Regions from separate parts of the Homo sapiens genome. Here region 1 is linked to region 2. Evidence: fine-mapped expression QTL. A gene starts in region 2. The other region holds a variant in brackets. All regions are shown on one strand. Distances are between the middles of the regions. Region 1 overlaps LOC105374528 (a long non-coding RNA gene). Region 2 holds the start of PPARGC1A-AS1 (PPARGC1A antisense RNA 1).

Region 1 (5,381 bases), 46 kb before region 2:
TTGAAATGATAAACCTGCCAAACAGCTTGTGGTCACACAGCTGACTTGTAGAATCTTTAGGAGCTTTGATTAGTATGACTTGTGGGGGTGTTGGAAAAAGAGAAGTCACTTAGGATAACATTTGTTAAGAATCAGTGGTATGTCCTATGCAGCCATGAAAAAAGATGAGTTCATGTCCTTTGCAGGGACATGGATGAAGCTGGAAACCATCATTCTCAGCAAACTAACACAGGAACAGAAAACCAAACACCACATTTTCTCACGCATAAGTGGGAGCCGCACAATAAGAACACATGTACACAGGGAGGGGAACATCATACACTGGGGTCTGTCGGGGGTGGGGGGCTAGGGGAGGGATAGCATTAGGAGAAATACCTAAGGTAGATGATGGGTTCATGGGTGCAGCAAACCACAATGGCACATGTATATCTATGTAACAAACCTGCACGTTCTGCACATGTATCCCAGAACTTAAAGTATAATTTAAAAAAAAGAAAGGAAAATAAATCATTATGTGAAAAAAAAATCAGTAGTATGTCAAGAAATTTAATTTCAGTATATTTTCATAATAACCCTGCAAAGAAAACCTGGTTATTCCCCTTTTTCATTGAGGAAACATAAGACTTCTCAAGAATCTCCAACGTTCTTGGCTAGGCTCGAGGGGGCAGAACTCAGTTGTCTTTGACTCCAAAAACTCACGAACCACAGAAAGTGCATCAACCTTTTTTTTTTTTTTTTTTTTTTTCAAAGCGGAGTCTATCTCTGTCACCCAGGCTGAAGTGTAGTGGCGCGATCTCGGCTCACTACAACCTCTGCCTCCCAGATTCAAACAATTTTCCTGCCTCAGCCTCCCGAGTAGCTGAGATTACAGGCGCCTGTGACAATGCCCAGCTAAATTTTGTATTATTAGTAGAGATGATGGGGTTTCACCATGTTGACCAGGCTGGTCTCAAACTCCTGACCTCAGGTGATCTGCCTGCCTCAGCCTCCCTAAATGCTGGAATTACAGGTGTGAGCCACCGCGCCCGGCCAAGTGCGTCAACTTTTAAAGCTGCGTTACCTCCTTCTGAAAGCCCATTTGAACAGTGAACTTTTATGGTATGAAGAGTGTATTCCTATACGCCAATATGTTAGAAGATTCTGTGGATTAGTAGCAGTGCTTTTTAAGCTTTTTTGTTCATGGTGCAAATAAGGAATGAATTTTATATTAGGACCCTGTACACACATACCTATTCTATGTCTATAAAAGTACATTTGTAACTGAAAACCACTCACAAAACAATACCTTCTTTTATATGTGAAAAGCATTCTGATATGTTCTAGTGTATTTTCAGACTATGTATAATACTAGAACAGTGGTTTTGAGTACTCATTATGGAGCAAAACCAGCTGGGATCATATGTGCATGCAGATACTTGACAATCGTTGTAGGAACTTGGAAAAGCAACTTAACCTATAAAAACAATTATACCTCAAAAGGTTGTCATGAAGATTAAATAAATATTATGTGAAAATCACTGACATAAAAAGTACCCAACAAATGTTGGCTCTTACTCTGTTAGGACCTCAGCACAGGGCCTAGATGGAGCAGCTTTACAATGACTGACACATAAAAGCACCACAAAAAGGTTTGCTGTTTGTGATGCTGTGTACTTATTATGTCTACTAAGTGTAGGGCAATGTGATAGGATGTATAAACAAAAGAAATTGGATAATATTTACATAGATGAGCAAAAGGAATGGGACATCACACAACATAAACAATTTTGTGGAGACAGATTTTTTTTTTTTAAATCTGAGATCAGATTCTTAGTCATTTCCTTTTATAATTTAATATAAAAATAAATATGGTATATGTATTTGTCTAGTCCCTTATTTGAGGCTACTTCTCCCACTAGACTGTAAACCTTTTTAGGGCCAAGACTGTGTCTGTTAACCCACCACTGTATTTTCTTGGCCTGTAGCCATATCTTTGACGTAGAAATCATTCAAATTACTACTTACGGCCGGGCACGGTGGCTCACGCCTGTGATCCCAGCACTTTGGGAGGCTGAGGAGGGTGGATCACAAGGTCAGGAGATTGAGACCATCTTGGCTAACATGGTGAAACCCCTTCTCTACTAAAAATACAAAAAATTAGCCGGGCGTGGTGGCGGGTTTCATGCGCGTCCCTGTGAAGAGACCACCAAACAGGCTTTGTGTGAGCAATAAAGCTTTTAATCACCTGGGTGCAGGCGGGCTGAGTCTGAAAAGAGAGTCAGCGAAGGGAGATAAGGGTGGGGCCGTTTTATAGGATTTGGGAAGGTAAAGGAAAATTACAGTCAAAGAGGGTTTGTTCTCTGGCGGGCAGGAGTGGGGGTGGCAAGGTGCTCAGTGGGGGTGCTTTTTGAGCCAGGATGAGCCAGGGAAAGGACTTTCACAAGGTAATGTCATCACTTAAGGCAAGGACTGGCCATTTACACTTCTTTTGTGGTAGAATGTCATCAGCTAAGGTGAGGCAGGGCATATTCACTTCTTTTGTGATTCTTCAGTTACTTCAGGCCATCTGGGCGTATACGTGCAAGTCACAGGGGATGCGATGGCTTGGCTTGGGCTCAG[A/G]GGCCTGACATTCCTGCCTTCTTATATTAATAAGAAAAATAAAACAAAATAGTGTTGAAGTGTTGGGGTGGCAAAAATTTTTGGGGGGTGATATGGAGAGAGAGAATGGGCGATGTTTCTCAGGGCTGCTTCAAGCGGCATTAGGGTCGGCGTGGGAACCTAGAGTGGGAGAGATTAAGATTTTAGTTTCCTGACTCCGGACATGTTGAGTAAAGCTAATTTGCCAGTCCTGGGTGGGGGCAAATCCTCGAGCTTGATGTGTAGGGAAGGGAGGGGGCCTGAATAATCCCTGAGGAATAGTAGAATAGCAGATGGAACACTGAGAAATTATTTCCTTGAGGATAGATTTCCACGATGGAAAGGAAATGAGAGGTTCTGAGAGGCGGGCTAGTGGCTTGTACTATAGCATAGCCTGCCTTTGCTGGTGTGTGGCGATTAGGCCTGGTGGAACTGCCATCAATAAATCAAGCGTGATCAGGGTGAGGAACAGGAAAGAAGGAAATATGGGGAAATGGGGTGAATGTCAGGTGGATCAGAGAGATACAGTCATGGGGGTCAGGTGTGGTATCAGGAATAATGTAGGAGGCCAGATTGAAGTCTGGGCCAGGAACAACGGTAATTGTGGGAGACTCAACAAAGAGTGAGTACAGCTGAAGGAGCCGGGAAGCAGAAAGTATATGCGTCAGGTATGAGGAAGAAAATAGATTTTGGAAGTTATGAGAACTGTAGAGAGTGAGTTGAGCATAGTTTGTGATTTTGAGGGCCTCTAAAAGTATTAAAGCAGCGGCAGCCGCTGCACGCAGACATGAGGGCTAGGCTAAAACAGTAAGGTCAAGCTGTTTGGACAGAAAGGCTACAGGGTATGGTCCTGGCTCTTGTGTAAGAATTCTGACCGCGCTAACCATGCCTAGGAAGGAAAGGAGTTGTTGTTTTGTAGAAGGTGCTGGGGTTTGAGAGATCAGTCGGACACGATTGGCAGGGAGAGCACGTGTGTTTTTATGAGAATTATGCCGAGATAGGTAACAGATGAGGAAGAAATTTGGGCTTGATTGAAGTAATGGGGGCTGTCTGTGAAGCTTTGCAGCAGTACAGCCTAGGTAATTTGCTGAGCTTGATGGGTGTCAGGGTCAGTCCAAGTGAAAGTGAAGAGAGGCTGGGATTAAGGGTGCAAAGGAATAGTAAAGAAAGCATGTTTGAGATCTAGAACAGAATAATGGGTTGTAGAGGCTGGTATTGAGGATAGGAGAGTATATGGGTTTGGCACCACGGGGTGGATAGGCAAAACAATTTGGTTGATAAGGCGCAGATCCTGAACTAACTTGTAAGGCTTGTCTGGTTTTAGGACAGGTAAAGTGGGGGAATTGTAAGGAGAGTTTATAGGCTTTAAAAGGCCATACTGTAGCAGGCAAGTGATAACAGGCTTTAATCTTTTTAAAGCATGCTGCGGGATGGGATATTGGCATTGAGTGGGGTAAGGGTGATTAGGTTTTAATGAGATGGTAAGGGGTGCATGATCGGTCACCAAGGAGGGAGTAGAGGTATCTTATACTTGTGGGTTAAGGTGGGGGGATATAAGAGGAGGACGCAAAGGAGGCTTTGGATTGGGAAGAAGGGCGGCAATGAGATATAGCTGTAGTCCAGGATAGTCAGGGAAGCAGATAATTTAGTTAAAGTGTCTCAGCCTAATAAGGGAACTGCGCAGGTGGGGATAACTAAAAAGGAGTGCTTAAAAGAGTGTTGTCTAAGTTGGCACCAGAGTTGGGGAGTTTTAAGAGGTTTAGAAGCCTGGCCGTCAATACCCACAACAGTTACGGAGGCAAGGGAAACAGGCCCTTGAAAAGAAGGTAATGTGGAGTGGGTAGCCTCCATATTGATTGAGAAGGGGACGGGCTTACCTTCCACTGTGAGAGTTACCCGAAGCTCGGCGTCCGTGATGGTCTGGGGGCTTCCGAGGCGATTGGGCAGTGTCAGTCTTCAGCCGCTAAGCCGAGAAGATCTGGGAAGGAGTCAGTCAGAGAGCCTTGGGCCAGAGTTCCAGGGCCTCTGGGAGTGGCTGCCAGGTGAGTTGAACAGTCCGATTTTCAGTGGGGTCCCACACAGATGGGACGCAGCTTAGGAGGAACCCTGGGCTGTGGGCATTCCTTGGCTTGGTGGTCAGATTTCTGGCACTTGTAGCAAGCTCCTGTGGGAGGAGGTTCTAGAGGAACGCCTGGCCACTGCAGTTCAGGCGTTTAGAAGTTCTTGTGTGCTGGAGATGTGGCTGGGGTTTGTCTCACAGTGGAGGCAAGGAATTGCAACTTTTTTCTATTATTGTACACCTTGAAGGCGAGGTTAATTAAATCCTGTTGTGGGGTTTGAGGGCTGGAATTTAATATTTGGAGTTTTAATGTCAGGAGCAGATTGGGTAATAAAATGTATTTTGAGAATAAGACGGCCTTTTGACTTTTTAGGGTCTAGGGCTGTAAAGCGTCTCAGGGTTGCTGGGGAACGAGCCATGAACTGGGCTGGGTTTTTATATTTGATGAAAAAGAGCCTAAACGCTATCTGATTTGGGATAAAGAAAAAGGAGCATTAACCTTGGCTATGCCTTTGGCTCCAGCCACCTTTTAAGAGTAAATTGCTGGGCAGGTGGGGGAGGACTAGTCACAGAACGAAACTGTAAGTCGGACCAGGTGTGAGGAGGGGAGGTGATAAAAAGATTATAGGGTGGAGGAGCGGAGGCTGAGGAAGAATTGGGACCTAGCTCTGCCTGGCGAGGAGCAGGCTGGGGAGGAAGGGAGAGG
Region 2 (5,381 bases):
ATAGCATTATTTCTCACAGATACCACTGAATACTCGAGAATCCTTCCTAATGCAAAAAGTTCTAGGCAGCCACTACCAATCAGTTGGAGTTGGTATATGATGTAAAACATAACTGTATTTTTTTTTTTTTTTTTTTTGAGACAGAGTCTTGCTCTGTCGCCCAGGCTGGAGTGCAGTGGTGCGATCTCAGCTCACTGCAACTTCCACCTCCCGGGTTCACGCCATTCTCCTGCCTCAGCCTCCTGAGTAGCTGGGACTACAGGTGCCTGCCACCACGCTCGGCTAATTTTTTGGGTTTTTTTTTTGTTTTTTTAGTGGAGAGGGGGGTTTCACCATTTTAGCCAGGATGGTCTTGATCTCCTGACCTCGTGATCCAACCCCCTCGGCTTCCCAAAGTGCTGGGATTACAGGCGTGAGCTACCGCCTCTGGCCACATAACTGTATTTTTTAACAATTACTTACACACATTGTACAGGTATGGTTCATGATTCAAACACAAATCCATGCTGATCCGGGAATTGATAATATCTTTCTTTTTGTTGTTGCAGCGGGTGTTAGGGTACAAGGTACTGAGTGTTTTAGTCTTGTTTTCTACCCTCTTATTTCCCTTCAGTCCTAATTGACTTTGCCATTTCAAGACTACCTACTCAAGAAGACACACAGAATCTCATTGAATTTATTCAAAGCCTCATAGTTATGATACTTGTACTCATTACCATAGCCAGCAAACCATCAATGTCCTTTATATTGATAATTAATTGCTTTTATCTCTGTCCCTTTGTCTTTATAGCTGAACACTGAAACTTGGTCAAAACTATTCTTACTGTTATGTATAAAAAGATGACTCTACTCACCCTACACAAAAGGTTATTTATCTATCATTTTGGAGAAACTACAGCTGTCATTAGAAGGAATTTGCTTCTACATGTGACTTTTGAAACTCTGCCCCTCCCCTATCCAGGAAAATGGATCTTTGTTTGAGTGACCTTCCACTTATCACTTGAAATCTGTCTGGCAACTTACCTGAAAGGAGACTAATAAGGAGTGAATTATTAGGAGTTAATGCTTAACACTTTCTTGCCAAGTACATTAAATGTACTTATTTTATCTAGGCTATATTTAAAAAGGGCTAAAATATACCTCAGAAGATACCAAAATAAAGAGAGATGTTATCAGGAAACTCAGACAAATTGCTGTTTGGTGACTTGAAAGGAAAGAATTACATAGGAGAAGAGCAAATGAGAAGGTACAAAGAAAATGTAATATAGTTTGTGGGGAACAAAATAAAGCATAAAATTAAGTTTAATAACATTTTGGAAATAAACGTATGTACATAAAAAAAAAACTAAGAAAAAATGGGCTTCTAATTAAAGCCAAGCCAGAAGTAAAAAGAGAGAGTGTAAAAAATATAGAAAGGTTGACTTAAAATCAGCTGATGTCACGGAGAAAGAATGAGCACAGAAATCCCAGCTCCCCATGTTATAATGACATGAACTTGAAAAATAACCCTAAATTCTCTCATTGTAGGTGATGCTGTGAACCCTCCCCAAGGGAGGTACCAAAAGCCTGCATGAAGCAAAAACTGGAAACAAATAAAGGAGAGTATGGTGACTTTGCACTAAGTTACTCATTTATTCACATAATTAATGAGTTTCTATTAGTGTTAGGCACCGTTCTAGATGATGGTATAATTAGTTAACAAAAACCTCAAAACTCTCGCCCCCCATGGAGCTTACATTTCCAGGGAGGGAGAGAGATGATACAACAATAAGAAAATACAGAGCTAATGTCATTCTATATTGTATAATTATGTAAAATCAAGCCTGAGTATTTGACAGCTTCTCAGATACCACAGATCTGTTGTTTAATGAAATCAGCCTAAAAGATAAAATTGTGTATTTGCATGTACACATCACCTTGCCTGTATTATGAGTCAGCGTTTCTTCTTATAAGAAACCACAGCTTGGTAAAAGGTAGAAGCTCAATTTCCTAATAAAGAGATATGTTTTACTAGGCAGGCTGTTGCACTGCATATTACTCTCTCTGACCTTGGCTTTAGTCCAAGGAGGATTAAACCCAGAAAGAGAAGGGAGTAAAGCAAGGTGTAGCAGAAAAGCAAAACAAAACAATACAAAATAACCTCAAAGAAATTAGTAACAATAATTAGTGCATTCAGAGATTATATCTTTCTTTCTTTTTTTCCTTTTTTTTTTTCTTTCGAGACGGAGTTTTGCTCTTGTTGCCCAGGCTGGAGTGCAACGGCGCGATCTCAGCTCACGGCAACCTCCGCCTCCCCGGTTCAAGTGACTCTCCTGCCTCAGCCTCCCGAGTAGCTGGGATTACAGGTGTGTGCCACCACGCCAGGCTAATTTTGTATTTTTAGTAGAGACAGGGTTTCTCCATGTTGGTTAGGCTAGGCTCAAACTCCTGACCTCAGTTGATCCGCCCGCCTCAGCCTCCCAAAGTGCTGGGATTACAGACGTTAGCCACCGTGCCCAGCTGAGATTACATCTTTTTGAAAGCTAAATATATATATATATAACACTGAGTGAAGGAGTTATGTTTTCAGGTAAGGGCTACTGTTCTTGACAATCCATCATCCATCCATCCATCCATCCATCTGTGTATTCTGGAAGGAGTGAGGAACTCATGCAAAGACATAAACAAGTTTACTCTCCATAGCAAAGAGTTGCCCTGATACATGATTGCTTGCAAACTTATATTCAAGTCCTGTGGTGTTTATTCTGTAGGCTTTGCCAATATAGCTGAATCTTAGGAAAAGACAAACCAAAACAAAATTGTAACATAAGCCATATTTGTCTTCAGTCCAGCCTTTTTTTCTGTTACTGCACATTTCCATACCTTTGCATTTTCTTTGTAACCCATAGGCTTGAGTGTTCAGTTTCTTAAAGTGGCTAGATGTCCCTGTCCACAATAGACAAAGTCACACCAAAATCCTAAAAAGAGAAAATTTGCTTCCCATCAAAGGCCTGACATACTTTTGCCATGAATGATATAGAAAGATTCTATAATAGATTAAAGGAAGCTCTGGGAAATTTGTTTTAAATACAATCAGTCTTACATAGACATATATCTTTAAAGTCGACTGCTTGACATTTTTTCCTTAAGATGAAAATTAAATAATGGCCCCTGTAAAAAATCATCAAAGGTCTCCCTTCACTGAAAAAATAAGCAAAATAATGAGACTGAAGCTCAACTTCTGTTTTGCCCACCTTGAATCCCTTTGACACACTTCCAAGTCTACCTTACAGCAGTAGGAGCGATTCCATAAACTGGAGATTTATAACATGACAAGTCAACCCAGATCCTTATGAAACTAGAAATGAGTCAGCAACATTATAGCTGCTTGAAATTCAGGGCATTTCAGAGTGAGGGGGAGAAATCTTCAAGAATTTCACAGAGGATGTTTTACTTTCTGAAAAATTGCTGAGAATTCTTCAGAGGCAAAGTGGTGCCTGGGTTTTTATTTTCCATGTCTAGGTGGTCAGTGAACCAAGGCTTTATGAGCTGGGATCAGATAGCTGGCAATAAGGGCCACATCATCATCTGGATATCTAATTACTTACACACCCCCCTTCCTAAAAAGTGGTTAACCTTCAATGAATCCCTACTTCTTAATGCAGGAGCCAGTTTATGACAGCCTTGTACTGCATTAAGCCTTGTACTGAAGGCTCTCAATGAACTGGCTCCTGCATAACCATCCACATGTCTCCGCTCCAGATTTCCTACCCTTCCCCTCTACACCCATTGCAAATATCCGTGAAACTGAAAGCTTTTCATTTCTTCAATGGATCGTGCTCAAGTTCTAATTATTATTGAGTTTATACTTGATAAACTCTTAATAAATAAAAATTATTATACATAATAATAACAAAAATAGAATTTCATCTCTTGAGTATCTACTTTGTGTTGGATATAAGGATATAAGTCTAGCACTTACCTATATTTTGTTAACTTTCACAAAAACTCTGCAAGCAAGGCTGACCTATTTTGGGGCTCAGGAACCTGCATTTTAAGAGGATCAGTAATAGGTCCAGGGTAACATGGCTAACACATGGCAGATATGGAATTTTAGCATATGTGCAAGCCCACTACTTCTGCTTCTTCCTTGACATTCAAGATTCAGTTCATGGCAGCTATGCCGAGAAAGATTTTCTCTGATGCTCTCTGCCCCTATGGAGGAAAACGGGGGCTTCTCTTGCCACTTGAAAAGCAGTTAAGGGCTCTGTGATGCTTTTATTCTAATGTCCTCACTGACTTACTTACTGGTCTGTCTCTCCAACTTGGATTGGGAGCAACAATCCGGGACTCTTTCTTCTCCACAGCTTCATTCTCTAGCACATGGTAGGTGCTCATAAAATATTTCTCACACTTGGCCTAGCATAAATGAACGAATGATTTAAAAGATGCTGCATAACTACTCAGGGACCAGGTAAAGCCCAGGGAGTAACCCTGCCAAGCCATCCTCAGTCAGCACCATCTGAAGCTACTTTTATGCTATAATAATTTGCCGCGAAAACTAAATGGAATAACCAGATGCGGCTAAAAGTTTTGTTTTTTCAGCCCTCACCCTCACCCCGGCACCCTGGCCCAATTCACCTCCAAAATGATCCAGAAAAACTAAAAGACAAAATTATTGCCCTACAAGGAGGTTTATAAGGGAGCATGAAAGGCGCTGCTGTGAGCCTGTGTGGAGGGAAATCATGATAAAGGCCATTAGGAGGCTTTATTGAATTGTAACCTGGGAGAAATGTGGCTGGATTCATCAGGCCGTGGTTAGGGGACCTAGGAGCAAATTTTACTGGCTGACCTTAGCTAGAGAATTGATTTTTCTTTTCTCACAGCTCCCATAACAAGAGTGAAACAGAGAAAAGACTGGAGGCCAGCAGGGATGGAGAGAAGAGATAGCAGTTCTGTGACAGCCCAGCTGGAGGGAGTCTTCCTTTCCTCCTTCAAGGAGAATGTACTCTGTGTAGGACTGAGGCCTCGGGTAGAGAGGCCCCGACAGGACCCTGCTGAAGATGAAACACCTGTGTCCCTGGGTTCCACTGGGTTAAGAATTTCCAGACCATATCAGAAAGCAGGTCACAGAATCGGGGTCCCAGGTGGGGACACCATGGTTTCCTGCTTCATTTTCAAGTGCCAAATGAGGCATATGAAATTATTCTCTCTCTCTTTGTTTCTATCTCTGTCTCTTTCTCTTTGTTTCCATCTTTGTCTCTTTCCCTCTGTTCTCTCTTTCTTTCTTTCTCTGTCTCTCTGAGTTTGACAAGGAATCAGTATCACACATAAGTGCTCTACACACTTGTTTACCAGGTAATATATATTTTCAGCCCACTAAATGTCTTATAACCTACTAC

The links. PIP is the estimated chance that this variant, and not a neighbour inherited with it, causes the effect.
Region 1: its variant is fine-mapped to the expression of PPARGC1A-AS1 in lung (TOPMed, PIP above 0.99).

What each region holds. Positions count from the first base shown.
Region 1 is chr4:23,720,714-23,726,094 of GRCh38, forward strand. All of the region lies in intron 1 of LOC105374528 (a long non-coding RNA gene), which reads left to right. Among named protein-coding and RNA genes, the nearest start is that of PPARGC1A-AS1, 46 kb to the right of the region's middle. RefSeq lists an enhancer at 2,248-2,872. The variant A/G (reference allele first, on the strand shown) is at 2,599.
Region 2 is chr4:23,766,792-23,772,172 of GRCh38, forward strand. PPARGC1A-AS1 (PPARGC1A antisense RNA 1) reads left to right here and starts at 2,303. Exons shown (of 3, transcript XR_925475.3): 1 at 2,303-2,345. It overlaps LOC105374528 (a long non-coding RNA gene), which reads left to right. Exons shown (of 3, transcript XR_925477.3): 3 at 1,528-2,256.